Linked DNA regions of Homo sapiens: region 1 is linked to region 2. A link means that fine-mapping ties the variant in region 2 to the expression of a gene that starts in the linked region. Tissue or cell type: blood mononuclear cells. Region 2 holds a variant in brackets; the other region holds the start of a gene. All regions are shown on one strand. Distances are between the middles of the regions.

Region 1 (2,753 bases), 28 kb before region 2:
TTCGAGACAGAAAAATGCAACAGGCGAGTTAAAGTATACATCCCTGACTGCTGTGATGAGCTTGACATCCAAAATAGGTGTTAAAAACAGGGCAGGCTTCAAATGTTGCCACATTGTAAAAGTCATCACTGTCCCAAGGCTCAAACACCAGCCTGTTCTGACTGATCAGGTCACCACTTAACATCTCTGAAACACTGCTCAGTCAAACCTGAGTTATTAAGCTGATCCATTTAAAGTGTAAAATGTTTAATCCCCCATGATAAGGTTAGTTTCTTGAAGTCTCTCAGATATCAAATTAGTTCCAACAACCAATTTAGAAAATCAGTCGCTTCGGCCGGGCGCGGTGGCTCACGCCTGTAATCCCAGCACTTTGGGAGGCCGAGACGGGCGGATCACGAGGTCAGGAGATCGAGACCATCCTGGCTAACACGGTGAAACCTCGTCTCTACTAAAAATACAAAAATTAGCCGGGCGTGGTGGCGCGCGCCTGTAGACCCAGCTACACGGGAGGCTGAGGCAGGAGAATGGCGTGAACCCGGGAGGCGGAGCCTGCAGTGAGCCGAGATCGCGCCACTGCACTCCAGCCTGGGCGACAGAGCGAAACTCCGTCTAAAAAAAAAAAAAAAAAAAAAAGGAAAATCAGTCGCTTCCTGGGCCGAGCCTAGGCAGGATGCTCTGGTGAGATCCACAGGTACGCAGGTGGGAGAGGGATTCAAGCTGGGGAGGAGGCAGTGGTGGGGAGGAGGCGCGAGACCCGCCCTGATTTGGGGAAAAAGCGAGGTGCACGTGGCTGCCCCACAGCCTAACTCCCTGGTCCCGGCCCTGAACCTCGAATCCCTCCCTGGACTCACTCCCAGTTCGGCGGGTTGACACGAGTGAGCAGCCAGAACGCCCCTGACAACAGCTCCCTCCAGACTGGGTACCGCCCCCACGCCCGGCGCATCCTGGGAGTTGTAGTCCTGTAGCCCTGCAAGCCACTGGCTTAGAGCAGTTAAGAGACTACAACTCCCAGCAAGCCGGGCGAGGGCCCCGCCCCTCCGCGTACCGCCGGCGGCCCCGCCCCGCGAAGCCTAGCACTCTCCCCAAACCTCTCTCGCACGCGGGGACTGAGCACGGCCCGAAAAGCCGAGGACAGCCGGACTCACCCTGTAGTTATAGTAGTGCGTCTGCACAAGATGCCGGTGGCGCGACTTGTGGTTGCCGAAGTTGGATTTCTCGCAAACCAGTAAGTGCCGCGGCGCCTCCCGAAGCCGGCGCAGCGTGGCCATGCTCTCCTGGGTTCCTGGTCCTCCCGGCCTCCGCTGGCGGGGCACGCCCCGCCCCTTCCTCCCGCCCCGCCCCTTCCCTCCGGCCGCATACCCGCTGCTGTGCGCCCCTGGCGGCGGTGGAGTGGGGATGGCGGCGCTGGATTTCTGAGCAGTTCTTAGACTTCTTAGGAGCCCACGCAGCCGCTCTTTGGTGGATGTCTGAAGCTGTAAATTCACTGTCCCAGTGGCTGGGAACCTGGCTCTTGCCTTTTCAACGCCACTTTTCCTCCGTCCCCGCCATCCCTTGGAATTGCCCTAAACCCTCTCTGTGGGCCCCGCCTCGGAGCGCCCCTTGGACCCCAGCCTGGCGCCGGCGCATACCTCGGTCAGGCCCCTCAGAGGGACCGCTTCCTGCCACCGTTATAAAAGGAAAACATCGCATGGAAAGGCCCAGTTCCTTTAGTATATGGTCAAGAAATGTAGCCGCACAGTTAAGTAACCCCCTAAGCTGCTTTGGGGGCCACACCCAGCTGCTTTCTGACTTCTCACACTGTTTGGTTCACAGGACTCTGTTACCCATTGGGGACCTCTTGGCCATTATTAACACAGGCCAACAGGACTAAAAGTTTGTATCAGTCCTTCCCAAAACATTAGGGAAGGTTGTGCGGGAAGGTAAAGCACAATTTTTGCCTTACAATAGGACTCCTTTGAAACTACTATTGAGTTCCCTTTTAAATAGCCCTTCAGAACCGCTTTTAATAATGTGTTGTTTCTGGGGGTTAATAGTGATAATTCTCCTAAGTCATTTTTCCATTTCGTTTTTCTGTCACGGGCTTGGAGCGGTTAAGAGACTGCGGCTCCCAGCATGCGGTACGTTACTGATCAGGGCAAAATCAAGTATGTTACTACATGCTTCTCAAACTAGAGAGGCACAGCCCCAATTCTGCACTGGCAGGATACAAAACAGCAGAATATTGGTGATACATCTTCCTGGAACATCAGTTTTTCTATGAGATGTGGAAGAAATGGAATTAAGTAGTTTACAAGGTAAATAATTAAGAATTTAAAACTAAGCCAGTCACAGTGGGTCATGCCTGTAATCCCAGCACTTTGGGAGGCTGAGGTGGGAGGATCACTTGAGCTTAGGAGTTCAAGACCAGCCTGGGCAATATAGTGAGACCCCATCTCCAAAAATAAAAATAAAACTAAGACAAGGCTGGAAAGTCATCTGCCATTATAAACATCAGTAATCTGGCCGAGCACAGTGGCTCACGCCTGTAGTCCCAGCACTTTGGGAGGCTGAGGTGGGAGGATCACTTGAACTCAGAAGTTCACGACCACCCTGGACAATATAGTAAGACCCCATCTCAAAAAAAAAAATTAAAACTAAGACAAGGCCGGAAAGTCATCTGCCACTAAAAACATCGGTAATCTGGCTGAGTGCTGTGGCTCACGCCTGTAGTCCCAGCAATTTGGGAGGCCGAGGCGAGCAGATCGCCTGAGGTC
Region 2 (2,753 bases):
TAAAGATAAAGGAAACCTTTTGGGTTATTTTGGAGAATTGAGGGCAAGACAAAAGGCTCCCTAACTGCAGGGAAAGGGGAGGCAAGTCATGAGCTCTGAGAAGGCCTGGCAGTGTCTGTGAACACATGAGATGTGCCTGTCACCCCAACTCTGCCAAGGCAGCGTGCAAACAGCCCCTGTTGCACCTCCACTTTCTGCCTGGAGGCCCGAGCAACCGAAGGCTGTCACATCAGCCCAGCTACTGGGAAATGCCAATTTGGAAGCCCAGGACTTACCGCCAAACCTACGGGCCAGTCCCCCGTACATGTAAAAGTACACCCACCCCAGCATGGACATGATATTTATAGGAGTGTTTCTCAACTGAGGGCAATTTTGCCCCCTGGGGACATTTGGTTGTCACAAATGAGGGAGGGGGTGCTAGTGGCATCTAGTGGGTGGAGGCCAGGGGTGCTGCTCAACCTCCCACAGCCCACAGGACAGCCCCCACAACGGAATTACCCAGCTGCCCCAAACCTCGGTAGTGCTGAGGTTGTGATACCCTGATTTATGGCAACATTCCCTCTGAAAACACAAAGCTCTATTACTTGGATCCCTGGAGCAGAAGTAACTTTTTAATAAACAAAATGGCTTATTTTCAGACAATTTCATCATCTGGTTCTCTTTATTAACTATGAATAAGGCCAGCAGTTCTTCTTGTTTCCTGTTATTTACATCATATACAATTTATTAATATCTCACTTAGGTAGAGTGCAAATGACATAGCCAATTAAGTGAAAAAAAGAATCATCACAACATTTTAAAAATTATATTGATCAATGGAAACACTCAATCTTATATGAGAGGCATATTTTTCTACTTTGTTCTTGCATAATTTCAACTTTCTTTTCCTACTTTCACAGGAAAAATATATATGCACATATTTGTATTCATTTTAAATGGGCTATACTTTGTAATTACCACTAGGCTGTAAAAATGCTAGTATTTATAAATGCAGTTAGATAATATTTACCAGACAATATCATCAAGTATTTAATATTTAGATTCAAGAGCTTCATACGTATTAATTAACTATGAGCGTCTTGCAAGGTAATATTTTCTAGTTTCATTGAGGGAAACCAAGGCGTAATAAGGGATAAGCGGTTCCCTCAAGGCTGTAAGAAGGAGCAAGTTCCAAATATTCCTATATTTCTATTTCTTGGGTCTGTGTATACAAACTAGCAAATAATTACTTTTTAGTTTTAATAGCTCAACTTTTTATTCACTGTTTTTTAAAACTGAGTTTCATTGAGGTATAATAACATATTAAAATTAAAAGATACAGTTTAATGAGTTATGACTATTGTTTTTAAACTTATTGTTTACAGCAAAATTTGTTAAATGTACAATAAAAATAGATTTCAGAGGCGCAGTTTGACTACACAGTATCTTAGTACATGGCAAAGACCACAGTTGTTCAGTAAGTCAATAAAATCTCAA[T/C]AATTTTGTCACATTGGGAGAAAGTCCAGTGTGACTGAATAGGAAGAATTTTGAATTGAGAATGTCTGTAGTTTTATTATGAATTAGGAGTTAGGGTATCCTGCTAGGAAGTCACAGTACAACTGACTTTACTTTTGGATCTCGCTGTCTTCATCCGGACGGGGATGGAGACTGAAAGAGGATTAGACTAGAAGATCTCTCGGGTTCCTTGCAGCCCAAATGTGCTGTGGCTTCCAGTCCATGCTTTCAGAACAGTCACCCCGGCCACTCCCTCCTGGAATTCCTCCTCCCCGCCTCCCGTCCCTCCACACCCTCCTGCTTTCTCCTCCTCCTGCTGCTCTTCCTTGACCTCCTTCCCAGCCTCTTCTGAAATGTGGGAATTCCGCAGGCTTTACCCCGGCCCTCTGATCCTGGCACTGCCCACTCTTCATGGCGGTAGCAGCCCCCTGCCTGCTGGTAATGCCCAAGTCTGTGTCTCCGCCCCACCTTCCCCTCCCCCACTCCCGTGGCCCCCGGAAAACATCAGATGGCCTCAGGATATTTGTCCATGGGTGTCCAGAGGCACGTCCAAATCCCCACGCCCAGACAGACTCTTCTCCCTCCCACCCCACATACTGCTTCTCTCCCCGTTTTCCTTGTTTAGGTGAAAAGCACCAGCACTCATTTCAATCTCAGAATCACTCCCGGGGGTGTGTTCTTCCTGCCACACGGAATCTTTATGCTAGACATGAAACAACTAGGCTTAGGGAAGTGGAGGAGCATGTCTAAGCCACACAGCCCGCCAGGGGTGTCTGACTGCAAGGCTAGGGCCCTTGACCACTGCCCTACACCCCAGCATGTGCCCCAGCCGGGGACCCCGGGCGCTGTCCTCAATGCCTCCCCCTCACCACTCACCGCCGCCCCATTGCCAGGACCCGAGACTCACAGGGGTCTCAGGTCAGCTCCCCTGAGGACCTCTATCCCTGGCTCCGTTCACCCACCCTCATCCTCACCTGGATACATCCATCTCCTAACCAGTCTCCCGTCTTCCTCTCTTCAAGCCACACTTTTAAGTTGAGAAAAGGTGCTGTTCCTACAACACAGATCAAGCCACTCCCTTGCTTGAAACACTCCAGTGGCAGTCCACAGCTTCTGGGACAAGAGCCAGCCTGTCACTTGGCAGCAGCCTCTCCATCTTCGTCTCCAGCCTTACAGTCCGATCTCATTATTTCTAGATTCCATACCTGCAAATTCACCTCTTCACTAAAATGTGTTTGTAAACCAAATCAATACTTGTG

Evidence for each region. PIP is the estimated chance that this variant, and not a neighbour inherited with it, causes the effect.
Region 1: it holds the start of RPP40, and the variant in region 2 is fine-mapped to the expression of RPP40 in blood mononuclear cells (TOPMed, PIP 0.97).

What each region holds. Positions count from the first base shown.
Region 1 is chr6:5,002,735-5,005,487 of GRCh38, forward strand. It overlaps RPP40 (ribonuclease P/MRP subunit p40), which reads right to left and starts at 1,303. Exons shown (of 8, transcript NM_006638.4): 1 at 1,146-1,303. The coding sequence starts at 1,268. LYRM4-AS1 (LYRM4 antisense RNA 1) reads left to right here and starts at 1,082. Exons shown (of 4, transcript NR_126015.1): 1 at 1,082-1,225. RefSeq lists silencers at 904-1,153, 1,284-1,413.
Region 2 is chr6:5,031,111-5,033,863 of GRCh38, forward strand. All of the region lies in intron 2 of LYRM4-AS1 (LYRM4 antisense RNA 1), which reads left to right. It also overlaps a transcript of LYRM4 not described here. Among named protein-coding and RNA genes, the nearest start is that of RPP40, 28 kb to the left of the region's middle. The variant T/C (reference allele first, on the strand shown) is at 1,477.